Linked DNA regions of Homo sapiens: regions 1, 2, 3 and 4 are each reported to be linked to region 5. The links are microRNA targets in miRTarBase. Many come from high-throughput screens and were not tested one by one. Region 5 holds a microRNA gene; each other region holds the end of a gene's coding sequence.

Region 1 (5,100 bases), not on the chromosome of region 5:
CCTAAAGCTTCCCAAAGTGCCTGCCTCAGCTTCCCAAAGTGCTGGAATTACAGGCGTGAGCTGCTGCACTCAGCCATAAATCGTGTCACTTTTCCACTTAAAATTTTCCAAGGGATTCCATCTTGCCAGGGAAGAGCATGTCAAAGGAGAATCCAAGCGCTTTTCCCGCCACCTCCAGTTCTCTGCACTCTTTTTTTTGTTTTTGTTTTTGGCGAGTAGGGGAGACGGAGTGTAGCTGTGTCACCGAGGCTGGAGTGCAGTAGTGCGATCTTGGCTCATTGCAACCTCCACCTCCCGGGTTCAAGCGATTCTTCTGCCTCAGCCTCCCAAGTAGCTGGGATTACAGGCGCCCACCACCACGCCCAGCTAATTTTTTGTGTTGGCCAGGCTGGTCTCAAACTCCTGACCTCGTGAGTTGCCCACCTCAGCCTCCCAAAGTGCTGGCATTACAAGCGTGAACCACCATGCCCGGCCTGCACTCTTCTTTGAACAGAACTCTGTTCTTGTCCTGGGGCCTCTACCCTTGCCATTCCCCTGCCCAGTATGTTCCTCCCTGTTCTTCACATTACCTGTGCCTTCCTGTCAATCAAGATCTTTGCTTCTCACCCTCTCTGAGGTCCAACCCTGAACCTCAGGTCCTCCAAGACAGAGGCCTGGGGACCTGCATGTTTAACCAGCTCCCCAAGTGATGAGTGAGGTCCAGGCAGGTATGGTGTACACCACCTCCATCCCTTCCATGTATCTTACCTTCCTCTTCTCCAGGAAGCTCAGCCCGGAGCCAGAAACGGGAGGCCCGCCTGGACAAGGTGCTGTCGGACATGAAGAGACACAAGAAGCTGGAGGAGCAGATCCTTCGTACCGGGAGGGACCTCTTCAGCCTGGACTCGGAGGACCCCAGCCCCGCCAGCCCCCCACTCCGATCCTCCGGGAGTAGTCTCTTCCCTCGGCAGCGGAAATACTGATTCCCACTGCTCCTGCCTCTAGGGTGCAGTGTCCGTACCTGCTGGAGCCTGGGCCCTCCTTCCCCAGCCCAGACATTGAGAAACTTGGGAAGAAGAGAGAAACCTCAAGCTCCCAAACAGCACGTTGCGGGAAAGAGGAAGAGAGAGTGTGAGTGTGTGTGTGTGTTTTTTCTATTGAACACCTGTAGAGTGTGTGTGTGTGTTTTCTATTGAACACCTATAGAGAGAGTGTGTGTGTTTTCTATTGAACATCTATATAGAGAGAGTGTGTGAGTGTGTGTTTTCTATTGAACACCTATTCAGAGACCTGGACTGAATTTTCTGAGTCTGAAATAAAAGATGCAGAGCTATCATCTCTTAAAAGGAGGGGCTGTAGCTGTAGCTCAACAGTTAGGCCCCACTTGAAGGGAGAGGCAGAATTGTACTCACCCAGATTGGAAAATGAAAGCCAGATGGGTAGAGGTGCCCTCAGTTAGCACCTGTCCCATCTCGGGCCCTCCAACTCCTCCCAGTCCCACTCCAGTGCAGCCAGCTGGCTCCAAGGTAGAAACCCATGAGCACTCAGGGAGCAGTGTGCCTTCAGCTGCAGCAGAAGCAGCCCGGAGGATAAAATGAGAACCAGCTGCACACGGGCCCTTTAACTCCCAAGCCCCACCCCTGGGCTTGGCCTGCCTTGCCCTGCCGGGAAGTGATCCCCAAGGCAGGGTGAGAGTTCCCCATCTGAGGCGTTTGTTGCAGCTACCTGCACTTCTAGATGTGAGTACATTGTACTAGCCCCCCAAACCCCAAATCAGGGGCAGATCTTTGTATCCCTTGAGGCTCTCTTTAGTCCTGTCTTGCTTTGAAGGGCCTTGCTTCTGCTGGGGCAGGGAAAACATGTCTGAATCAGAGTGGGGAAGGAGGATGGGTGGTGGCTTTGCTTTTGGAGGTTTCACTTTCCAATAGTTGGGAGTCTTCTGGGTTTTGAAGTAAAGGCAGATTAACACCAACACCGGTCCCCCACCCCCCTGCAACTCTCAGGCCTCTCTCTGACTTCAGGGTCCCACCTGGGAAATCAGGTGGGGAACCTTACAGGGTCATTCAGACCCCATCTTAGCCCTAGATCGGTGCTTGCTCTACTCACCTGCACTGTCCTGGGGACCTGGGCTCTGGCCTGTCACCTTGAGCTCCAAGAATGTGACCTGTACCCATTCAGGCCCCTTAACTCTGACAGATGAGGGTTTCTTACTCCTCCATGCAGGGCTGGGCCAGCTGTTGGTCTCAGTCGATCATTCAGGAAGTCATTAGCAGAGTGATTTCCAGAAGGCGTAGAATTTAGTGACCAAGGTTCTTTCCTTTTTGGGAGGAGAAAGTGAAAACTAGGATGCTCAGCTGGACCCACCAGCCTGAGATTCTGGGGATTTTAGAGCTGTCCCTTGGGGAGCCAAGCACTTGGGGGTGGAGGTGATAGCGAGGCTGATGGCCCCTGTGTTCTCAGCTCTCTGCCTGGGTAGCCCCTGGGTGATGGGGGAGAGGCCAGCTGTCACGTGGGGTATCAGGTGGCTCTGCCAGAAACTCCCTTGGCACACAGAGCACTGGGTCGGCCCTCGGGTGTGGCTGTTTGGGCAGGACAGCCCTCTGTATGTAGCCTTGAGCAGGTAGGGGGGCCACCTTGAGTGGGTGGCCCAGAGACAGCCTCAGGGCTCCAAGGTAACGGGGTGCTCAGGTTATCTTGGGTGCTGCCCTCCCAGGTTCTGGGGGAGCAGAGGCTGGGCGCTGGCCCAACTTACAGGAAACACTCACCTTTGAACTGCCATTAGCACCATCTGGGCAGTACACAGCCCCACCCAGGTCCTCTAGTTCTTGTTCTCGGCTTAGAATCTTTGTGTTTCTGCCTGAGAAGCCACTGCCTCCTAGTTTGTGGTCTCTACAGTTATAGCCAGGTTGGACTTCCGGCTCCGTCCTTTGATAACTGTGTGCTCTTGGGCAAATTTCTTAACTTGCAGGTTCTTGTGAGGATAACATGAGTTAATTGAGGGCACTTAACACTACCTGGCACAGATTAAGCTCATCTGAAGTGGGAGCTGTTACTTAGGGGCGTTTGCCTAGAACACAGGGTCCAGAGGCTCTCTCCCGGAAACTTAGACCCAGTGAGTCAGAAGTGAGGCCTGCAAAAAGCAGCAGGAGTGGGGTTAAGAATTCCAGCCTAGGGCTGGATGCGGTGGCTCAGGCCTGTAATCCCAGTACTTTGGGAGGCCCGAATGGGAGGATGGCTTGAGGCCAGGAGTTCCAGACCAGCCTGAGCAACATAGCGAGACCCTGTCTCTGTTTGTGTGTGTGTGGTTGGGGTTTTGTTTTTTTTTTTTTTTTAAAGAATTATAGCTCAGTCCTATGATTAGGCAAGTTGAGAAAATATTGATGAAGATCAGGGGTGCTGAAGCCTGGTTCCTGGGGTCGCTTCTGATCTAGGCGGTTCTTGCCTCTGGTGACTGGTGTTAATTGGCAGGAGTGGGAGGAGGGAGGACAAGTGGAAGTCTAGGCTGGCTGAGCTGTTCTGTCTCGAAAAGTTCCTAAAACTGTGCTGCTTTAAAAAAAAAAAAAGTAATTTATGAGACACATTCTCAATTTCCATTAATCATCTCCTAAAGGGGGTAAACCAGGAAGCCGCTGGGTGAAAACAGGCTGTTGGCAATTCCTGAGTCATGTGACCCATTCTCTAAAGACTAGAATATTTAACTTAAATCAGTGAGAAACTCTGTGAAGTTGTGTCCTTGTTTATACCAAACTTCATGTGCCTTTTCCTGAACCTGAAGCTGTGGGAAGGTCTGGGGGCAGGGCCGCATCACCGACCTTACGTCCAACCTCAGGACTGCCTGGAGCAAGAGCCCTGGGGTTGGGGACAAAGGAGGCTGCCTGGACCTGGGTAAGGGAAGGGGCTGGAGGAGAATGAGTGCAATTCCCTGCCCTTCACAGCCTGCAATCGGAGCTGTGTTTTTGTTTTTGAGACAGAGTCTCGCTCTGTCCCCCAGGCCAGAGTACAATGGCGCAATCTCGACTCACTGCAACCTCTGCATCCCTGGTTCAAGCAATTCTCCTGCCTCAGCCTCCCGAGTAGCTGAGACTACAGTTGCCTGCCACCATGTACGGCTAATTTTTGTATTTTTAGTAGAGACGAAGTTTCACCATGTTGGCCAGGCTGGTCTCGAACTCCTGAGCTCAGGCAATCCGCCTGCCTTGGCCTCCCAAAGTGCTGGGATTACAGCCACTGCGCCCGGCCTGAAACTGATCTTTATCCTCCTCCCAGTTCCTACTGTGCACCAGAGACCCTCCAGTCTCTAATACCTTTGACTTGAAGAGCAGTCATTTTTTTTTCCTTTTCTTTTCTTTTCTTTTTTTTTTTTTTTTTTTTGAGATGGCCTCACTCTTGCCCAGGCTAGAGCGCACTCGTGTGCTCCATTTACGGCTCACTGCAGCCTTGACCTCCCAGGCACAGGCGATCCTCCCACCTCAGCCTCCAAAGTAGCAGGGACCACAGGTGTGCACCACCACACCTAGCTAATATTTTTTATGGTTTTTATAGAGACAGGGTCTCCCTATGTTGCCCAGGCTGGTCTTGAACTCCTGGCCTCAAGTGATCCTCCCATCTTGGTCTCCCAAAGTGCTGGGATTACAGGTGGGAGCCACCAAGCCTAGTCAACAGTCACTTTTATTCTCACTTCACTGGAGAGGAAGGCTCAGAGGCTAGTAAGTGGCCCAGGAGCATGCTGGCAGTGATAAAACCTGCTGGAGTGACATTTTCCCACTGGCTCTCAATCCTGGATATATATTAAGAGTCAGAGGCCAGGCGCGGTGGCTCACGCCTGTAATCCCAGCACTTTGGGAGGCCAAGGCAGGCGGATCACGAGGTTAGGAGATCAAGACCATCCTGGCTAACACAGTGAAACCCCATCTCTACTAAAAATACAAAAAAAATTAGCTAGGCGTGGTGGTGGGTGCCTGTAATCCCAGCTGAGGCAGGAGAATGGCATGAACCCGGGAGGCGGAGCTGCAGTGATCCGAGATCGTGCCACTGCACTCCAGCCTGGGTGACAGAGCGAGACTCGTCTCAGAAAAAAAAAAAAAAAATGAGGGAGAACTTTTTACAATAGCAACGGGTGAA
Region 2 (5,100 bases), not on the chromosome of region 5:
AAATTATCGTGCAGGTCTTCTCCAGAACAACTTGGAAGAAGGTAATGACCTGAAATCATTCTGGAAGAAGCTAACTCTGTTGGATGCACTTTATGAAATAGCAATGGCATGGAACTTAGTAAAACCAGTTACCATTAGCAGAGCATGGAAGAAGATTCTCCCTATGGTAGAGGAGAAAGAGAGCCTGGACTTTGATGTTGAAGATATTTCTGTGGCTACTGTGGCTGCCATTTTACAACACACCAAAGGATTGGAAAATGTGACTACTGAGAACCTTGAAAAATGGCTTGAAGTAGACAGTACTGAACCAGGCTATGAAGTGTTAACTGATAGCGAAATCATCAGAAGAGCACAAGGCCAGGCAGATGAATCCAGTGAAAATGAGGAGGAGGAAATAGAACTAATTCCAGAGAAACATATTAATCATGCAGCTGCCCTCCAGTGGACTGAAAATTTATTGGATTATCTAGAACAACAAGGTGATATGATTCTACCTGATAGACTGGTAATACGTAAACTTCGAGCCACCATCAGAAATAAACAGAAGATGACAAAGTCAAGTCAATAATGTCATTTCAATTTTATTGTTCTGCTCATTGTGTTTGTGACAAACTCTTTGCAATATGGCTTAATTTTCTTTGTGTTCTGAATTCTCAGACTTGGTCCTGTGAAATACAGGCACAAAATGTATCTGAAGTGGTTTGAGGATTATGTGTTTTCATCATCTGTGTCTTTTGTCCTTTTATTTGTACAGATAATCAGAAGATGATACTGAATAGATATAAATTACATGTACACATGTATTCACTTTTTAGAATCTGCAATTATACCTTCTGTAACAGTGGCATTCCCTTAATTTTCTAGTGAAAGTTAGAGATAACTGAACAGACTGAAGCACTTTTCTGAAATCTTTTGCTTGATTTATGAAGGCTGCCATAGTTATCTTTTCTTGTGTTAACCATCTTAAATGATGTTTTGTATATTTTAATAGACTGATAGGATGAGAAAGATTTATATTATTAGATTTCAGGATGATTTATAATAATTCAAAAATGAAATTCAATAATGGGGAAATAATTATGAATTATAGAAATTATGCCTTCATTCTCTTACATTTGTGTGGGTTGCAAGAGGGGGAGATTATTCTGGAAATGAAGTAAATATGGGAAGTTATTGCCAAATGAGAGAGAAACTATGGGAAAGCTGATCTATAAAGAGGCATTCTGATCAATTCATTTGTAGGAAACTGGGAAATAAAAACCTGGGGAACTTTAGGTTATTTATACAAAGGGAATAAATAGGCTGATTTTAATTTGGTAAGTTGATCTTTTTATTATGAATTTGGTAATAGTATAGGTTTATTATTTATTCATCTAATTTTATAGTACAGGTTTTGTAATGTTACATGTGATGATATGAGCTCCCACCTTATATGGGGGAACATCTTGGGAATTTGAGATTTAATAAGTTTTTTTTTTTTTTTTTTTAGTGTTTTTACTGCATACTCACAAATGTTGTCTATAATTTGAAAAATATTGTCATATCTGGCCCTTTGATGAGAAAAGGAAATTACAATAATAAAGTTTTATGATTTTAAATAAGTCATATGTTTGTATCCTGTTTTATGAAGAAAGCAGAAATAATTACTGAAAGTGCCAGACACTAAGGAATATTATTGTTTATTATTTTAATACATATAAAAAGGGATTAATCTGCTAAAATGTAATCTAAATCAGAATTTTGATAAATTTTTTTTGTAAACTAAGTATGTTTATTCAAGACATTGAAACTACTTTGCACATATGAATATTAATGTAACTTGTAATTTAAAAGTAAAGTGTTTCCATGCTATTTCATGTTTTGGCCAAAAATTTTTAAAAAATAAATTACAATTGTTCTCTATTAGTCATTTTTTAAAGGTTTAACTTTTTTTGTTGAAATACGTAACATTTTATAGTGCTTTCTGTAGAATACTAAAACTTCAAAAGTATTTTTAGTTTTCCATAATTTCTCTTATTTTCATGATAGGTGTATGTCTATATTTTTCAGAAGATGTGTGATGAAAGTGTTTAAAAATAGTGTTTATTGCATGAATTTCCTCAGTGTAGAGTGTGAAAAACCATCAGAAGTTAACATACATATTGAATCAGATAATGACACGTTCTGCTATAAAGTAAGCTGTACATAAAATAATTTTTCTAAAATGAAAATATGTACTACAGATCTTGGAATTTCTGTCTGGATTTGCACAGTTTTTAAAATTAATCATGTCAGCCCAATGCAGCTGTGTCATTGCCACCTAGTGGTAAAACTAACATTACTGTTAAGCTGTGTGATTTTAAACTTGAATCCCCAGTAAAAGGTTCACTGTTCTGTGGCCATAAGTGTGAATCTTGTGACTCTTTCTCTAGCCTGTAAGAGACTGCTCTTCTTTGGTTTACAGCTATTCTCTGAAATCTGCCAACACTGGTACTCTAGCCCTGTTTTGGATCCTTCTATCCTTAATTATAAAGGCTGATCAGTAGTTGTAGCAGTTGAAGCCAAAAGCTATTTGGGTTCTGTATCTGCCCCCAAAGTTGTATATCCTTAGCTCCTAATTCCTATTCTATCAGTGCCTTACCAGAGGCTGTGTTTGGCATTCTATTTATCTATTTAAAAATTTGCCATTGGCTTATGTTCTCTCACCAGTTTCATGAATTTTTTTCTCATTGATATGCCTTGACACAATACTCTCAGAAAGCCAATAACAGTGCAATGTTTCTTACACTTCCAGTAGTCAAGAATTTTGTGAGAGCAGATATACCTAATACAAGATCATGTAGGAAATTATAATGTTGCTTTTTTTTCTGAGAGATTTGGGCTTTTTTGTGGCGAGGGGGTTGTAGAAAGTTGAATTCTTTGTCATGATGAAATCCAGTAAATTAAAAATTTATTGAGTTTTACTGTATGTCGAAGACTGCCAGCTGTGGTGGGTTTAGGAAAATATGAAAGAAAGGGAAGAGGTTGCTTTCCTTGAACATCTTGAAATCAAGGTGGAAAAACTATACATGTTTGAAAAAAAAAAAAACCCCAAAACCATCTGCCTCAATTGTAAGCTCATATAAAAGAACCAACATAACAAGATGTGAGCTATGTAAAAAAACCATCAAGATTTAGTTGCTTATTCATTTCTCCTCTGATTTCTATTCTGTATACCCTTTACATTCTAAGCTATGCATTGGTCTTGATTTTTGCTGCTCCTGAGTGACTTCATCCTTTTCCCTTATCTGCATGTGATCCAGTCACCCTGTCTGGCTCTATGATTTATATATTCAATTGAGAAATTGGACTTAGTCTAGAAGGGAAATTAAAATTAATGCTTTGCTTCCCATCCATAGTGAACTCTCCATTAGCATCATAATGTCAGAGCCACCCAGATGGGTTAAGAAGTTCAAATAATTATTTAACTCAGTTGTTGACATCTCTACTCATATCAAAATTATTATACCTCCTTATGCCACTCATAAGTGTCAAAATACAGCTCAGCTGCCTTGGTCTGAAGTAGCAACATTATTATCTGTATCTCTTCTTAGCCTTTCCTAATGCATACACATGCCCTTTCTTCTCTCCATTTCCTCCAGTGGGCAGTTGTAGTGGTTTCTTTTTTTTTTTTTTTTCCTTTGGTATCCTTATTGCTACTTAAGTATTAAAATTTAGTTTGTTATGATTCAGCCTTAAAAGATCATCACGCAAATTCTTTAAGACTAACGGACTACACTTCTTAGATATGTACCCTTATCTGTTTTTCCTATTGAAGTCTATGACAACTTTGTTTAATAATTAGTCTCAGGCAGTCCTATGCAATTAGAAGTTGGGATGGAAGCTGCAGGGCACGGTGGCTCACACCTGTCTTTGAGGGGCGGAGGCGGGTGGATCACGAGGTAAGGAGATCCGGACCATCCTGGCTAACACGGTGAAACCCCGTCTCTACTAAAAATACAAAAAAAAAAAAAAAAAAAAGAAAAAGAAAAAAAAATGGTCGGGCATGGTGGTGGACACCTGTGGTCCCAGCTACTCCTGAGGCTGAGGCAGGAGAATGGTGTGAACCCAGGAGACGGAGCTTGCAGTGAGCTGAGATCGCGCCACTGCACTCCAGCCTGGGCGACAGTGTGAGACTCCATCTCAAAAAAAAAAAAGAAGAAGTTGGGATGGAAGAATGACCAATAGCAGTTTCTTCCACAGTGACACCTAATGTGAAAATGAGTGTCTGTAGTGCCTCAGATTCTATAAGAATTGCCATATTGTAAAGTGATTCTTGTGGTTGTGTCTCTTAATACTGGAATATAAGCATCTACAGATCAAAGACTATGGGATCAATGCTTTGCAGAGTAGTATATATTCAACAGACATATACTTAAACACTAATTGTATATCATGTATAAGACATGTTCTAGATCATGTATGGGATATATGGCTAAGACTATCTGCATTCAAGAGATTTACAATGGAAAGGAGGAAACAGACATGTAAGAAAGGGAGAATGAGTTAAGTGTTACTGGAAGAGTGCAAATGAAAGACTAATTCTGATGAGTGGCATAAGGAGGTATAATAATTTTGATATGAGAAGTAGAGATGGCAACAACTGAGTTGGCCTTCAAAAATAATATTTTCATGATGTTTTGTAATTCTTAAGATATTTTCGTAGACACTAGCTCAATGTCCAAGAGATCATCTAAAGGATACATTTGGTTGGGAAAGTAAACCTTAATTTAATCTTAGCTGCAGGGATGAATCCATTTGTTTAACTGAGAAGTCTTACTGAGGCTTTGCTTTTTCAGTCTTATTTCCTTCCTACTGTTTGTAGTCTGGAGAAATAGTTTTTGAAACCTACAAAAGCCCCCAGATTTCTGGACTTTCTCTAAGCCAAGGTATTTAACTGAATGTCAGAATAAAGGTATGCTTTATTTTGCTTATAACTGACTAATTTTCTGAGCTCACTTCTTTCTTGTATTATTTGCTGAACACAGCAAGGAGCAAATAACGTTAATTTTCTGGCTCTTTCCAGCCACTTCCTCTAGAGAAGGGCTTCTTAACTTCAGGGTTATCATGATGCAGATAACT
Region 3 (5,099 bases), not on the chromosome of region 5:
GAGAAGAGGCAGGGTGGTCCACTTAGGGCAGGCTTGAGGGACTGGCCTGGAAGGGCAGGCTGAAAGTGGGCTTCCCTCCAGCCAGTCCAGCTAACCCCGCAGTGATGCCTGGGTGCAGGAGCAGCTGCAGAGACCTTGAACCACACAGGACGGCCCTTGGCAGCCGCCCAGCCTCCAGGGTGGGGTCAGGTCCTCCCGGGCAGGCCGCCCCATCCAGCTGCATGCATGGAGTAACGCATTCACCTGCTCTCACAGCAGGACGATCTCCGGCAAATCCCAGAGACAGGACAGACACACACCGCCAGGACCTGTCGGGCGTGGCATTTCCCGCGGGCTGTTTTGTGGAGTCTGGGGGTCTGAGTCTGGGGGAGCAGTCATGGGTGTCTCCATGTGAACCACTCGATGACCTGTCTGCCCGCTGGTCCACAGGGCAACTCCAGAGAGAAGCATCCCCTGGCCCGGTGGGAAGCCCAGACGAGGAGGACGGGGAACCGGATTACGTGAATGGGGAGGTGGCAGCCACAGAAGCCTAGGGCAGACCAAGAAGAAAGGTACAGCCCCTGCTCTCCAGCTGCCGTGGGCCAAGGATTGGAGGTCTTGCCAAGCTGCAGGACCCCCAATCCAAGGGAACAGCCGAGAGTGTGGGTGGAGGGGCCATGGTGGGGGCTACAGGGTGCACCCATGGGTGCTCCAAGAGGGCAGCTTGGCGACTCTGTTCCTCTGTTCTGGCCAGGGGCGTCAGGCAGGGAATTCTGGTGACTTCAGGGGCAAAGAAGTGGGCACCGGGTGGGTCTCCCAACTCCACTGCATCCTCCTGGCTGCGACCTTGGACCAAGTGACAACCTCCCAGAACTTAGTTCCTCACTTGGTGCCCACCTCTCAGAGAAGACATCGCACACACGGCCGGGCACGGTGGCTCACGCCTGTAATCCCGGCACTTTGGGAGGCCGAGGCAGGCAGATCACCTGAGGTCACGAGTTCGAGACCAGCCTGGCCAACATGGTGAAACTTCATCTCTACTAAAAACACAAAAAATTAGCCAGGCATGGTGGTGGGTGCCTGTAGTCCCAGTTAGTTGGGAGGCTGAGGCAGGAGAATCATTTGAACCCTGAAGGCGGAGGTTGCGGTGAGTTAAGATCACATGCACTCAACCCTGGGTGACAGAGCGAGACTCCGTCTCAATAAATAAATAAAAAAACAGACATTGCACACAAAGCCTCAGCCCAGCAGGCACTCGGTCAATGCTGGAAACAGACAGGAGGCAGGGACGTTGGGAAATGTAACAGTGGCTGAGACGCGCTGAGGAGCCACCGCAGGCCAGTGAGATGGTGCGGCGCTAAGCGCTCACACGTGCACCATCTCTTAGCACCCAAAGCCACAGAGCAGTTAAGCCACCTGCCCAAGGCCACATCTTGAAGTAAGGGGAGGAGGAGATGGAATCCCCAGTGGTCAGACATCAGACATCAAAGCCTAGGCTGGGTCTACTGCTTGGGAAGCACGATGGACCCCCAGAGGGCCTTGAAGGCTGCCCAAAGTCCCCATCTGGGAGACCCAGGCCGTCATCTCAGCGAGCAGGCTGGAGGGTGGAAACCACAGTGAACCTGGGTGGTCAAGAGTCAGCCCCAGAGGCAGGTGCAGGAGTTTGAGCCAAATGTGCAGAGCCCCACGTCATTCATTCAACCAGTATCCACTGGGCCCCTGCTACGGGCAAGTCCTGCTCTAGGTGCTGGGAACACCAACATAAAGAACAGCAAACCCCTGACCCCTTAGAACTTGCATTCTGGTAGGAGAGAGAAAACAGATAGGGCTGGACACAGCGGTCATGCCTATAAATCCCAGCACTTCGGGAGGCTGAGGCGGGAGGATCCTTTGAGCCTCTGAGTTTGAGGCCAGCCTGGGCAACATAGCAAGACCTCTCTCTCTACAAAAACTTTTTTTTTTTTTTTTTGAGACAGAGTATCACTGTCACTCAGGCTGGAGTGCAGTGGCGCCATCTCGGCTCACTGCAACCTCCACCTCCTGGGTTCAAGCGATTCTCGTGCCTCAGCCTTCCAAGTAGCTGGGATTACAGGCACACGCCACCATGTCCAGCCTCTATAAAAACATTTAAAATTAGCCAGGCATGGTGGTGGATGCCCTAGAGTCCCACTGACTTGGGAGGCTGAGGTGGGAAGATCACTTGAGCCTGGGAGGTCAAGGTTGCAATGAGCCATGGTTGCTGCAGTGAGCTGTGGTCGTGCCACTGCACTCAAGCCTGGGCAACAGAGCAAGACCCCATCTCAAAAAAAAAATTTAAAAATTAGCTGGGCATAGTGGTGTGTACCTGTAGTCCCAGCTACTTGGGAGGCTGAGGCAGGAGGATCGCTTGAGCCCAGGAGTTCAAGGCTACAGTGAGCTATGATTGTACCACTGTACAGCCAGGATGACAGAGTGAGACCCTGTCAAAACAACAACAACAACAAGAAAACAGATAAGAAGACATGGCATGTTCACTGGTGGTAAGTCTGGCAGAGAGAAACAAAACAGGGAAGCGGGGCAGGAAGTAGTGTGGGGTTGTGGGCAAGACGCAGTGTTGCAATTTAAGGAAGGCGGCTAGGGAAGCCTTTCAGAGCTCCCTTCCTCACCCCATCTGGGGGAAGGACATCCAGGCAGAGGGGACAACAGAGGCCCCAGGGTGGAGTGAGCCCCACAGGTCTGAGCAAAGCCAGGGGCCAGGGAGGAGCAGGTGAGGGGAAACTAGTGGAGGTCGAGGCCGTTGGTGGGGAGGCTGACCAGGCAGGGCCAGCACTTGGGGTTTTACTGCATGAGATGGGAGGGAGGGAGGGAGATAGAAAGGTTGTTTTTTCTTTTTTTTTTTTTTTCGTTCCTGTCGCCCAGGCTGAAGTGCAATGGTGCAATCTTGGCTCACTGCAAACTCCGCCTCCTGGGTTCAAGCGATGCTCCTGCCTCAGCCTCCCGAGTAGCTGCGATTACAGGTGTCTGCCACCACACCCGGCCAATTTGTATTTATTTTATTTTATTTTGTTTTTTGAGAGGGAGTCTCGCTCTGTCACCCAGGCTGGAGTGCAGTGGCGTGATCTCGGCTCACTGCAACCTCTGCCTCCTGGGTTCAGGTTTCTCTTGCCTCAGCCTCCCGAGTAGCTGGGATTACAGGCACACGCCACAACACCTGGCTAATTTTTGTATTTTTAGTAGAGATGGGGTTTCACCATGTTGGCCAGGCTGGTCTCAAACTCCTGACCTAAAGTGATCGGCCCACCTCAGCCTCCCCAAGTGCTGGGATTACAGGCATGAGCTACCATGCCTGGCTAATGGGAAGGTTTTGTACAAAGACTGGCTGGATGTTTCTAATTCAATTTTTCTGGCTGTTGGGCAGACAAATGGGTACTGGGAGAGTGGGTACAGGAAGCCCAGGAAGGACCCAGGCACTGGTGCCATCTGGGCAAGGGGTGGCAGCAGTGGAGACAGGGGTAGGCAACATGGTGAAACGCTGTCTCTACATAATATACAAAAATTTGCCAGGTGTAGTGGCGCATACGTGTAGTCCCAGCTACTCGGAGGTTGAGGCGGGAGGATAGCTTGAGTCTAGGAGGTTGAGCTGCTGTGTGAGCTGTGATTGCACCACTGCACTCCAGCCTGGGCCACAGAGCAAGACGCTGTCTCAAAACAAAAACAAAAAGAAGAGGCCAGGCGCAGTGGCTCACGCCTGTAATCCCAGCACTTTGGGAGGCTGAGGCAGGCTGATCACCTGAGGTCAGGAGTTCGAGACCATCCTGGGCAACATGGGGAAACCCCATCTCTACTAAAAATACAAAAATTAGCCAGGTGTGGTGGCGTGTGCCTGTAATCCCAGCTACTCGGGAGGCTGAGGCACGAGAATCACTTGAACCTGGAAGGAGGAGGTTGCAGTGAGCTAAGATCGCACCATTGCACTCCAGCCTGGGCAACTACGTCTTAAAAAAAAAAAAAAAAAAAAAAAAAAAAAAGCCAGGCGCGGTGGCTCACGCCTGTAATCCCAGCACTTTGGGAGGCTGAGGCGGGCGGATCACAAGGTCAGGAGATCGAGACCATCCTGGCTAACACAGTGAAACCCCGTCTCTACTAAAAATACAAAAAATTAGCCGGGCATGGTGGCAGGCGCCTGTAGTCCCAGCTACTTGGGAGGCTGAGGCAAGAGAATGGCGTGAACCCGGGAGGCAGAGCTTGCAGTGAGCCGAGATCACGCCACTGCACTCCAGCCTGGGAGACAGAGCAAGACTCTGTCTCAAAAACACAAAAACAAACAAACAAAATGGGCCAGGCGTGGTGGCTCACGCCTGTAATCCCAGCACTTTGGGAAGCCGAGGTGGGCGGATCACGAGGTCAGGAGATCGAGACCATCCTGGCTAACATGGTGAAACCCTGTCTCTACTAAAAATACAAAAAAAAAAAAAAAAAATTAGCTGGGCGTGGTGGCGTAGTCCCAGCTACTTGGGAGGCTGAGGCAGGAGAATGGCGTGAACCTGAGAGGCGGAGCTTGCAGTGAGCCGAGATCGCGCCACCGCACTCCAGCCTGGGTGACAGAGTGAGACTCCATCTCAAAAAAAAAAAAAGAAACCCAGTTATTGATGTGCGGCTTCTGTTCTCAGCCAGGAGGCAGGCTCAATGGTGTCCCCAAACCAGTGGTTATGGTTCTCAGGAACAAAATACTGATCAAGGCAAACCTCCTTCTACAAACTTTCCTCTTCATTTAAGGAGCCAAGGCAAAGAGGGACCACTGTGCTCATGGACCCATCGCTGCCTTCCAAGGACCATTTCCCAGAGCTACTCAACTTTTAAGCCCCTGCCATGGTTGCTCCTGGAAGGAGAACCAGCCACCCTGAGGACCACCTGGCCATGCGTGCACAGCCTGGGAAAAGACAGTTACTCACGGGAGCTGCAGGCCCGTCACCAAGCCCTCTCCCGACCCAGGCTTTGTGGGGCAGGCACCTGGTACCAAGGGTAACCCGGCTCCTGGTATGGACGGATGCGCAGGATTTAGGATAAGCTGTCACCCAGTCCCCATAACAAAACCACTGTCCAACACTGGTATCTGTGTTCTTTTGTGCTATGAATTTGGA
Region 4 (5,100 bases), not on the chromosome of region 5:
GGGCTGCGGCCAACTCAGCGGGCCGCCATCCGAGCGCGGGAGGCCGGGGGGAAAGTTTGGCCGCAAGTTGCGCGGCCGCCCGTGGCGGGGGGGGAGGGGCGGCGGGTGCGCGCCGGGGCTGATCGCCGCGCCCCCTGGGTCCCCCGGCGCCCGCGGCTGCCGCTCCGGGCCTGCAGGGCCGCTGGGCCGGCGCCTCTGGAGCTGCCGCCCCCGCTGCGGCCGCTCCTGCCTGGCCTGGGCCTGCGCCTGGGCCCAAGCCTCGCTCTCGCCGCCGCCACCGCCACCGACCCCGCGCGCCGGCCTCGCGCTGCGGCCGGTTTGACACACAGCGTTCCATTCGCGGGGCGGGCGGGGGGCGGGGGCGGGGGCAGGGGCGCGCGCCGCGGGCTGGGGGCGGGCGCTCGTTGCCCCGGCGACGGCCGCCCTTATAAGGGCATGGGTGGCCGCGCGCGGCGCCGGGCGAACGGGCCGGCGGGAGGGACGGGGGCCGAGCGCTGGGCCGCGGGGCCTGACCCTCCCCCGCCTCCCTCTGCCCCTCCCCCCGCACCCCCGCCCTCGCCCTCGCCCAGCTCGGGCCTTAACCCCTGCCGGGCCGCGGCGGGAGCCTCAGCCGCGCCTGCCCTCTGCCCTTCCTTGAGCCTCGCCAAGATGTCTCTCCAAGGCCCTCCCCTCCACCTCTGGCCTTGGACGTTGGGTCGCTCGATCACCCTCGAGGCGCCCCTCGGAACCTCTCCCCACCCCACAGTTCCTGGCAAAGCAATGATGGGGGGCCAGTGGCACCCGGGGGGGGGGTACGCCCCTGCGCAAGACACACGCGCGCGCGAGACAGACAGACACACACACACACACACACACACACACACACACACACACCCTAGATTGTGTTTGCTTCCTCTTCCAGAAAGTCGCCGCGTCTGACCCCCACCCCACCCTTTCTCTGCTCGGGTTAACACCTGGTGCCCGGAATCTCCAGGGGGAAGGGATGTTGTGGTCTGAGACCGGCTGGCCGGGGCCGCGAGGTCAGGGGGCCCCTCTGCAGAATTTCTGGCCTCCGGGGGCAGGGCGCCCACCCGCCCCGCGCGGCTGGAGGCGACAGGCATGCCCTGTCTGGGGGCCTGCCCCTTTTTCCCTTTTAATTTCCTTTTCTTTCTGTGCTTTGCAGAAAGGGCTTGGCCTGGCGGCCGGCTGGACTGCAGATGTCTCTTCCAGGCGCCCTGGAGCCTCGCAGCTGCCGCCACCTCCAACTCACCCCATCCCCCAGTACCGGGGCTGGGGCCCGCCCGACCAGCATTTATTAAGCACCCTTTGTATGCGAGGCCCGGGCTGGCGAGCCTCTGGCTCTGGGCAGGTTAACCTTTAACCGGCTGGACAAGCCCTTCCAGGAGTGACCTTTCACCTCGGAGTCTTGCAGCCCCAGCCACCCAGACTGTGGTCCCACCCCGCCCTGAGCCCAGAGCTGGACACCAGAGCATGCAGCTGGGCCTCTGAGAGCTCTGGCCAGGACAGTGCCTTCTGCGCACCCCCTCCTCTGCCTCCCAGAGCCCTGATGAGACTTGAAGAATTGCCCTCCCTGGAGTAGGGGGAAAGATTCTTAGAGATCTTACAACACTTAAAAAGAAACTGAGGTTCTGGGAGAGCCAGGCACACCCAGCCCTGGGCCTCTCAACCTGCTCCAGGGACGTTCTGGCTGCCTGGGAGGTGGAGGAGGAGGCGTTAGTAAACACGAAAAGCAGGAAGGACTAGGATTAGACATGAGCAAGGACTTCCCGAGGTCTAGAGTCGGGTTCTGCCCACAGCCTGATGTAATCCCTGCTGGGAGAGAGGAAGGCGTGGGTGGGCAGAGACGACCCTTTGGTTCTGAGGCTGCATGGGAATGTGACTGGTAATTTGGGATGAGGGCAGGGATCCTAGGCCCCTTGCCTGGACCTGCTAGGATCTTTGGTGGGGAGCATTGGGGTGGAGGTCTCAGAAGGGATTGAAAAGAGATTTAGATGAGAGACAGGCGCTGTGGCTCACGCCTGTAATCCCAACACTTTGGGAGGCCAAGTCAGGAGGATCTCTTGAGACCAGGAGTTCAAGACCAGCCGGGGCAATAAAGTGAGACCCGTCTTGAGCCCAGGTGTTCAAGGCTGCAGTGGGTTATAATCACGTCACGTCACTCCACTCCAGCGTGAGCAAGACCCTGTCTCAAAAAAAAAAAAAAAAAGAAGAGGGAGAGAAGACTCAAGGAATCTTGAGGGGATTGTGAAGGGGAGGGAGCAAAGAACTAGGTTTGGGGGAGACAAGTCTTGCGAGGCAGCTGAGAGCTGGGTGGGAGATGGGGGAAGAAAGACCATCGCAGATCCCAGAAACTCCAGTAGTTCCAGTCCCAAAGGCTGCCCCACCCCCTTCCAGTAGCCTGGCCACCCCTGTGCCCCCTGGGGCCCGCCTGGGGGTGGATCAAGGCTCTACCCCGCCTCCCTGACCCCTGCCCGCGGCCCTGCAGTAACATTTGACCTTGCGGCGGCCGCAAACCAGGGACAAAGGGGCCTAGGCCCATCTGCTGAGGGGGCACCCGTGGGAATGGCCAGATCCTGCTGGGGCAGCCTGGGAACCTGTCTCCGTCCTCCCACATGTGACCTTGGCTCCCTTTGCCCCTCCACAGGCAACCTGGTGGGACCAGGAACTCAGGTCTTAGACTCTGGGGCTCGGCAGGGTACAGGGAAGAAATTCAGCTTCTCTGCCCCACCCCAACACGAGCAAGGTGGTCTGCCTCCATTTCCCTGCTTTCTTCAAAGTTGGCCCAAGTCCAGGGACAGCGTGTGGGTCGGAAGGTGACTAGCCCCAGCCCTCGCTGGAGGGGACTGTGCTCGCCACCATACTTCTTGTTCTGTTTCTGGGGTCAGGTTGACTGGATTCAAGTCCAGGCCGCTGACTGGCGCTGACCTCAGGCTGACGTGGTCCTGCCCTGGGAGAGGCGGTGAACACACCTGCACAGGTGAGGCCTGGAGCACCTGCCCCCAAGGCTGGGAATGAAAGTCTTTCTAATCCCTGTCTCGGGTTTCAGCTGCCACCCTGAAGGGGGACAGCTGGCCACTAATCCAAGCTTGGCTGGGTCGTTCCAAGCTCCCCTTTCCCAGACTCAGCCAGTCCTGGTGTGGAGGGGCAGGGAGATGTGACTTATGCAAATGACATGCTAATTCATTGCCTGCTATTAACCTGACACGTCCCACAGCTCCTGGGCCCCCAGGAGAAAGCTGGAACTGGCCACCATTGGCATTCATTCTGAGTTTCTCTTGAAGTACAACGCCCCCTGAGTCCCAGACTATTACCTTTGCTATGCCTGTCCCCCACCCAGAAACCCTTTACCTTATTTTATTTATTTATTTTTGAGACAGACTCTCCTATTTTGCCTAGGCTGGTCTTAAACCCCTGGGCTCAAGCAGTCCTCCTCCCTCGGCCTCCTGAGATACTGGGATTACAGGCAAGCTCGACCACATGGAGTCCAGAAACCCTTGACCTTAGCTTTGAGTTAGTAGCAACTCGTCATCCACACCCTGAATCTGAACCATTCCAGCTTCAGTCTCCCTCCTTTTTGTTTTGTTTTGTGTTTTATTTATTTATTTAGAGACAGAGTTTTGCTCTTATTGCCCGGGCACGATCTTGTTGTTGGCGCGATCTCGGTTCACTGCAACCCCCGCCTCTCAGGTTCAAGCAATTATCCTGCCTCAGTCTCCCGAGTAGCCGGGATTACAGGCATGTGCCACAACACCCAGCCAATTTTTGTATTTTTAGTAGAGACGGGGGTTTCACCATGTTGGCCAAGCTGGTCTCAAGCTCCTGACCTCAGGTGATCCTCCCCGCCTCAGCCTCCCAAAGTGCTGGGATTACAGGCATGAGTCACCACGCCTGGCCTGTTTTTTTTTTTGAGACAAGGTCTTACTCTGTGACCCAGACTGGAGTGCAGTGGCGTGATCTCAGCTCACTGCAACCTCCACTTCCCAAGCTCAAGTTACCCTCCCACTTTAGCCTCCTAAATATCTTTATAGGCACATGCCACCACGCCTGGCTAATTTTTGTATTTTTTTGTAGAAATGGGGTTTTGCCATGTTGCCCAGGCTGGTCTTGAACTCCTGGGCTCAAGTGATCTACCCACCTTGGCCTCCCAAAATGCTGGGATTACAGATGTGCACCACTGAGCCCGGCCCCCTTCAGGAAAATCTGCCAGCCAAACCCAGCATCTCCCTGGGAAGGGGCTGCCAGGAGAAGCTCTGTCCAGTCCCCATGAATCCCTCCCTGGGCTTCGGGAGACAGGCCAGTTGGAACTTCAGCTGTGGCTATGCAACCTCACGGACCCCCGAAATGCGTCAGTCCCAGGGACCTGGTCCCATAGCCCAGGTTGCTTCTGGCCTGACCCCACTGATATGAAGTTCACATTCCACTTGGTGCCAGGCCAAAGACACCTGAGTCTTTCTTCATTGCCTGGCCACACCCCATCAGGCCCTGGACACCCATGTGCACCAGCTTCCCTCACGCCAAATGTGCCCCAACATGCCAAATCATGCAACATGACATGATGTCACTCCAGGACAGTTTATGACATGCCACAGCTGTCTGGCATGTCCAGACATGGCTGGGTAAGGGGCCTACAGAAAGGTGTCCCCAAGCTGGGGAGGCGGGAGGGGAGGCCTGGGCTTCCCCAGGGCCCTTGCAGTGGCTTCGAGCACCGCCACCTCCTCGGCCTGCTGAGCCTCCATGAGTGCCATCTGCTGCTCCAACTTCCGGCGTTGCTCTTCCTGCTTCCGGTGGGCTCCTCGGAAGGCCAGGACCAGGGCGCTGGAAGGGGTGGGTGGCTGGGTCAGGAAACAGCCCCCGAGTCCACCCAAGGCAAGGGCCGTGTACTCCCACTCCCAGAATGGGGGCTCTTTCACATTGGGTCTCCAAGGGTCCCAGCTAGCTGGTCTTTTGTTGTTGTTGTTGTTGTTGTTTGAGACAGAATTTCGCGCTTGTCACCCAGGCTGGAGTGCAATGGTAAGATCTCCCCTCACTACAACCTCTGCCTCGAGGGTTCAAGTGATTCTCCTGCCTTAGCCTCCCAAGTAGCTGGGATTACAGGCGCCC
Region 5 (5,100 bases):
GCCTCATCACCCGAAAAGGCATTTAGCCAGCCCTGCTACTTGGAGCTTCTTATCACATCTGAAATCACCTGGGTGGCACTCATCAGAGTGCAGACCATTTATGGGCAGCTATAAAGGAACTGGATCCCCGAGCCAGGGGTGCAAAGACACTCAGACACCAGCTCTCCCTCCCCGGCCGGGGCTGGGCCTTCTGATCCCCGTGGTCCACACACATCCAATGAGTGGCTATTTAGTGTCAGGGAAGCCCTTCCGCCACTCACGCAGAATCAGACAGGAGGTGGGGCGGGGATGCAGTCGGGCAGGTGGACCTGAGCCCCCATGGGACCTACACTTCTAATGGAGTTGGGTGCGGGATGGGCTCAGAAGAGAGGGAGAGTGGTCCGGGCGGCGGGGGACTCTGCAAAGAGGAGTGGTTTGGAAACTCCTGCCTGGAAGCCGAGGAGACAAAAGACCCCTGTGGGAAGGACTCGTTACCTCGCTCCTGGGCTCCGGGGGGCTTTTCACGTCCAGATCATGAGCAGTTTCTTTCACTTCGTCATCAGGCTTTTCACACAGGTCCTCGGTTTCAGAAGTAATTTCTTGTGGGGAAGAAAGGGGACATGTCACTCGGATGATGACTTCTGCGTACACACGCGTTCCATATAAACGCAGGGCCCCCACGAGCTGGGGGATTTCTCACACGCCTCGGCCCAGCCTGAGCTCACCAGGCAAGCCCAGGGGCCCTACATGGACAATTTGCTGGCCAAACCCAGGCCCCCCCATCGGTAATCATTTGAAGGCCTCACCAGACTCAAGGCGGAAGCCTTCCCCGGGGGAGCGCCACCTGCCAGTCACAGGGAGCAGAGCTGCCAGCACCTGGCGGATGAGCTCCCCATTCAGCCCGTTTCCTGCCGTAAGCTTTAAATGCAGCAGTTTCCATCTCATCAGGGTGACTTTCCTATGCCAGAGACACATCTGTCCCAGGAAGTCAACTCCTCAAGAGAAGGGCGACGCCGCCGGCCACCGGCCAGGTAAGTCCCCGGGAAGAGCATGGCTGCACCTGAACTTCAGGCTCCCATACAGACTCCTCTGGGTGGCAAGCCCAACCCTGGTGGGGAGCAGGGGGCGGATGGTTGGAGGCAACTCAGTTCCAGCTGCCGTGGCCGAGCCGTGAGTACCAGAGGCCGCAGGCAGGTGCTGGGTCCAACCTATCTGTGCAGGGCTCATTTCGGCCCACCTGTTACACGCCTTGTTTCTCACCCAGGCCTGGTCCCTCACCCTGTCCTGTCTGTCACCTCTGTCTCCTGTGACACCCACAGAATGTGGCGGGGAGACCCCGGGGTGCTCACCTTGGAAGGTGGGCCTAACTCGCGGATCCCCCTGCCAGCACCGCTGCATGAGGCGTATCAGGTGGCTGCAGGCGCGCGGCCGGGCTCTGCACACGGGCGGCAGCTCGGGGCGGTGGCCCTTCACCACCTTCACCATGATGTGCAGGATGTTCTTCTCATCTGCCAAGGGAAGGATGCGAGTCAGGGGCTCTGCAGGGCTGGGTGGCAGCATCTCACCCTTGGGAGGAAACGACACACTCGCCGGGGGCCACAATGGGGCCATCCCCACACCACCCCAGGGAGACGGCTCCCCCACTCCGTTTCAAAGGCAGAGCTTCCTGTAACCCTCACCCTCATGGTGCGCCATGCTCTCTAGTTTCCTGGTTTTGAAATCGACCTCTTTCCCTGGGTTCTGATCTACCAGAAGGAGTCAGTGTGTTTGGTCACAGAGCAGATCTTTCTAGGCATCCCATCCAAAGGAAGATGAGGTTCAAAGGAGAACAATATCTTATGAGGCTCATTCCATCAACAGCCCAAGCCAGCAAAGGGAATGAGGCTCACGCACCATGGAGGAGCCACAGCGTCCTACATCCACAGAGACCCAACTCTCTCTACAATGGCGAAGAAGTCTTCCTCAGTTCCAACTCCAATCCCAAGCTCAGGTCCCCAGCTGGCCTCCCCTGCCGGTGCACCAGGGCTGGGATGTGTGGAAGGGCTCTTTCCCCTCAATTCACCATGTGGGGCCGCACCTGTCCTTTCCAACTGCCTTCACTAGCATGCATGGGCTCTAGCTTATTATTATTATTGCCACAACTTCTACCCTGACTGGGAAGGGCCCAGGGTGACATCCAGTGGGCCAAGTTCTTTTTTCTGCTTAGCCTGGAACCCTCAAGGTTCTTGTTCCCAACAGCCCTCTCTGCCCTCCAGATCCAAACACACCCACGCATGGAATGGCAGCTCTTTGGAGAGGCCATGTGCCTCAGCAGGTGTGGAAAATCAGCCGAGAATCACCCACGGCTGCCAGGATTCCATACAATGTTTTGCTCCACTTTCCCATTAAATCTTGTGCAATAAATATCGTTAAGTGTTTAGCAGGCTATTTCCATGATTATTCAGACTTCAAAACCAACAGCTCCTCTAAATAAAATGGAAGCAAACTGAAGTAAACGCCCGGAATGTTTCCTGCTGCCAAGCACAGACTGGAAAAGCTGGGGAGAGGCCTTGTTCTCCTGCACCTTGAACCCCCTCCTACCCATTTTTGCCTGAGGTTGCAATTTTTTGAATTTGAAAAATCAGACCTTGGCGATGACCTTGAACAGTAGGACACGAATAATTCCCATATGATTAGCGTTCCAATAAGGGAACACTAGGCATATTCAGCAATAAAGCACAAGGGCTTGAGCCTTGACCTGTCCCCTGCGCCTAGCTTCGGGTGTCACATCTATCAGACACTGCCTCATTTCACAAGCCTTCGGGCTGTAGGCCACTGTGCGGGAGAACGTACAGAAGGCAAGAAAGGCGACAGGCGGTCAGACAACACAGACGGACACCGGCCAGCAGAGGCCTGGCAGGACGCGTTCTGTGCTTTCTACTGACATTCTTTTAAAGCTGCCAAGATACTTGATCTTGCGATGCTGGAAGATCTCTTCTCACCCCAGCACTTTCCCATACATCGGCTCCTAGTCTGAGCCCCGACTAACAAGGGGCTAGGCCTTGACTCTCATCTTCATTTTTAGACATTTTCGGTCACACCACAAAATATCATGAGTAGCCCAGAAATGTCTTTAGAGGAAAAGGGAATCTGTCCAACAAAGCTAAAAAGTCCTGGATTTTTATGATAAGTAAGTCAAGGTGTGACAACTTTGAGGATGGTGTTCGGAATGGTGGCTGCCTGGCTGGGGAAGCAAACACCACAGCTCTCAAGCTGGGCAGGGGTGCCACTCCTGCAAGCAACTCCATGGCACTGAGCAGCTCTGGAGGTTGGCTGCGCAAGCACGCGGGTACATGTAATGCTCCTGAACTGTATGCTTCACACGGCTGACATGCTAAGTTTTGTTCTGTGTATTTTATGACTATTTTTTTAAAAAGTAAACAAAAAAGAATTAGCTGGAAATACCAGCACAGGCAAACCCCTGGAGACAGAAAGCAGGTGAGTGGTTGCTGGGGCTTGAGCAGGAGGAAGGGCGAGGGACTGCAGAATGGCCATGGGCTTTGCCTTCTAGCATGATGAGAATGTTCTGGAATTAGACAGTGGTAACGCTTGTTCAACACTGCCAGTGTAGTTAATGTCACTGAATTATACACTTTAAATGGCTAACATGACCAATTTTATGTTATATATATTTTACTACCACAAAAAAACTAGCTGGCACCTAAAAACATTCCATTGAACAGGCCCCTTCAGATCTGTGTCTTTTCCTGCATGCAAATTACACCACAGAGCAGCACCTATGGCAGCGTGGATCACAGGCTCTGTTTTAGGATAGAGAAAGGACAACAAGGTGTCCCCCCATTATTCCAGGAAAGACAAGCACATTACACCTCAAAGACAGGTCCACTCACCTGCAAACGGCTTCTTCTGTGTGAGCACGCCCCAGATGACGATCGCAAAGCTGGAAGAGAAACCAGGCACGTTAGCATCTGACAGCCAGAGACTCAAAGCCAAATGCACTCATGCACAGCAACAGGCGTGAAGACACCTGTTCTGAAGCCTTCCAAAGACAGAGCCATGACACCGAGATATTTCTCCTGTTTTTAAAAAGAGAAAATTCTCTATAGTGAAGCCCAGCATGTTGATAGCTCAGATGTCAGACAGACTCAAGTAACTTCGCCAACTGGGCTACAATCTTCAGGCAGCTTGAGGGACTTCCAAAGAGGGTGCCACCCTATGCGGGGCGTGAGCTCCTGGGGAACAGCGCCTGTGTGCCTCACTGATATCTTCTCGCAAGCACCAGGCACAGAGCACCTGCGCAGGCATTTACTGAAGAAATGGATGAATGAATGATGGGCAACTCCCATGCCCTCCCCCAACAATGATTTCATTCTCTGAAAACACGGATTCTGGTTCTGATCAGCGTTCCTAACGTAGGCTTGCTGAGATTTCAGCGTTCCTAACAGAGGCTCACTGAGAGTTCATCATTAGAGGGTTGTTAAAGAAAGTGCGCAGAAAACGTAGGAGACAACACAGCTGAACGCCCCAAAGCCTTTTTCGGGGGCTGCTTAGAAATATATAGATAATATGAGGGATACGTTCATGTACATTACTCTGGATACACCAAAAAAAGTGCCCAAATTGATTAAAAAAAAAAAAAAAAAAAAGAAAAGAAAAACAGAAGTCCGAAAACTGAGCCTCCAAGGAGCACTGAGTTGGTGAGGGCTGTTTATAGACAACGAATTCACCATCGAAAATTAGTTCAAACGGCAGGTTCAAAAGCTGGAACTCCAAACTCTAAAATAAATGGAGAGGATCTCAATCTCCCCAAACTCTACAAGCTGTGACTAGTCTCCAAAGTGACACTTCCAGGCAACTCTCAGCTTAAAGCCCCAGCTAAGCACATGCACAATGGCCACTGTCAAACCAGTCAGCCTGGGCTGCTGGCGGCGGCAGTGACCAAAAGGCAGAGCTCACATGCGGGGTCCGAGTCACAGTGCTGCTGGATAACAGCCACAATGGGAGGCTTAGTGCCTGCTCACACGCTCCCACCCACTTTTCTTCTCCAAGAAGTCTGTGTGATTAAGACCTTTACAATTTGAAAAAGGAAGGGACTAGGTGACTTGGGGATTGATCTCTGAC

What was found. The annotated mature microRNA hsa-miR-6814-5p reads UCCCAAGGGUGAGAUGCUGCCA and lies in region 5 at 1,531-1,552, opposite strand. An mRNA with a match to its seed (bases 2 to 7 or 8) in the 3' UTR can be bound and repressed. Matches are read on the target gene's strand: a 7mer-m8 pairs with bases 2 to 8, a 7mer-A1 pairs with bases 2 to 7 and ends in A, and an 8mer does both.
Region 1: the mRNA of PAGR1 is a reported target of hsa-miR-6814-5p. Seed matches in the 3' UTR shown: 7mer-A1 at 1,046-1,052 and 7mer-m8 at 2,376-2,382.
Region 2: the mRNA of JRKL is a reported target of hsa-miR-6814-5p. Seed matches in the 3' UTR shown: 7mer-A1 at 1,445-1,451.
Region 3: the mRNA of LAT2 is a reported target of hsa-miR-6814-5p. The part of its 3' UTR that is shown has no 7-base or 8-base seed match.
Region 4: miRTarBase lists USHBP1 as a target of hsa-miR-6814-5p. Seed matches in the 3' UTR shown: 7mer-A1 at 3,979-3,985.

What each region holds. Positions count from the first base shown.
Region 1 is chr16:29,818,793-29,823,892 of GRCh38, forward strand. PAGR1 (PAXIP1 associated glutamate rich protein 1) reads left to right here. Exons shown (of 3, transcript NM_024516.4): 3 at 763-3,697. The coding sequence ends at 962. It overlaps MVP (major vault protein), which reads left to right and starts at 1,670. Exons shown (of 15, transcript NM_005115.5): 1 at 1,670-1,718. MVP-DT (MVP divergent transcript) reads right to left here and starts at 1,575. Exons shown (of 4, transcript NR_186424.1): 1 at 1,392-1,575; 2 at 748-809. RefSeq lists enhancers at 1,314-1,383, 2,075-2,641, 2,104-2,393.
Region 2 is chr11:96,391,657-96,396,756 of GRCh38, forward strand. JRKL (JRK like) reads left to right here. Exons shown (of 2, transcript NM_001261833.2): 2 at 1-1,905. The coding sequence ends at 568. Among named protein-coding and RNA genes, the nearest start is that of JRKL, 4.2 kb to the left of the region's middle.
Region 3 is chr7:74,224,210-74,229,308 of GRCh38, forward strand. It overlaps LAT2 (linker for activation of T cells family member 2), which reads left to right. Exons shown (of 14, transcript NM_032464.3): 13 at 430-551; 14 at 4,735-5,099. The coding sequence ends at 533. Among named protein-coding and RNA genes, the nearest start is that of LAT2, 17 kb to the left of the region's middle.
Region 4 is chr19:17,245,600-17,250,699 of GRCh38, forward strand. USHBP1 (USH1 protein network component harmonin binding protein 1) reads right to left here. Exons shown (of 13, transcript NM_031941.4): 13 at 3,572-4,815. The coding sequence ends at 4,626. It overlaps NR2F6 (nuclear receptor subfamily 2 group F member 6), which reads right to left and starts at 320. Exons shown (of 4, transcript NM_005234.4): 1 at 1-320. RefSeq lists enhancers at 304-1,253, 2,203-3,152, 3,153-4,101 and silencers at 311-560, 961-1,040.
Region 5 is chr21:41,745,285-41,750,384 of GRCh38, forward strand. MIR6814 (microRNA 6814) reads right to left here and starts at 1,557; the gene lies at 1,488-1,557. RIPK4 (receptor interacting serine/threonine kinase 4) reads right to left here. Exons shown (of 8, transcript NM_020639.3): 4 at 3,870-3,919; 5 at 1,329-1,487; 6 at 475-578.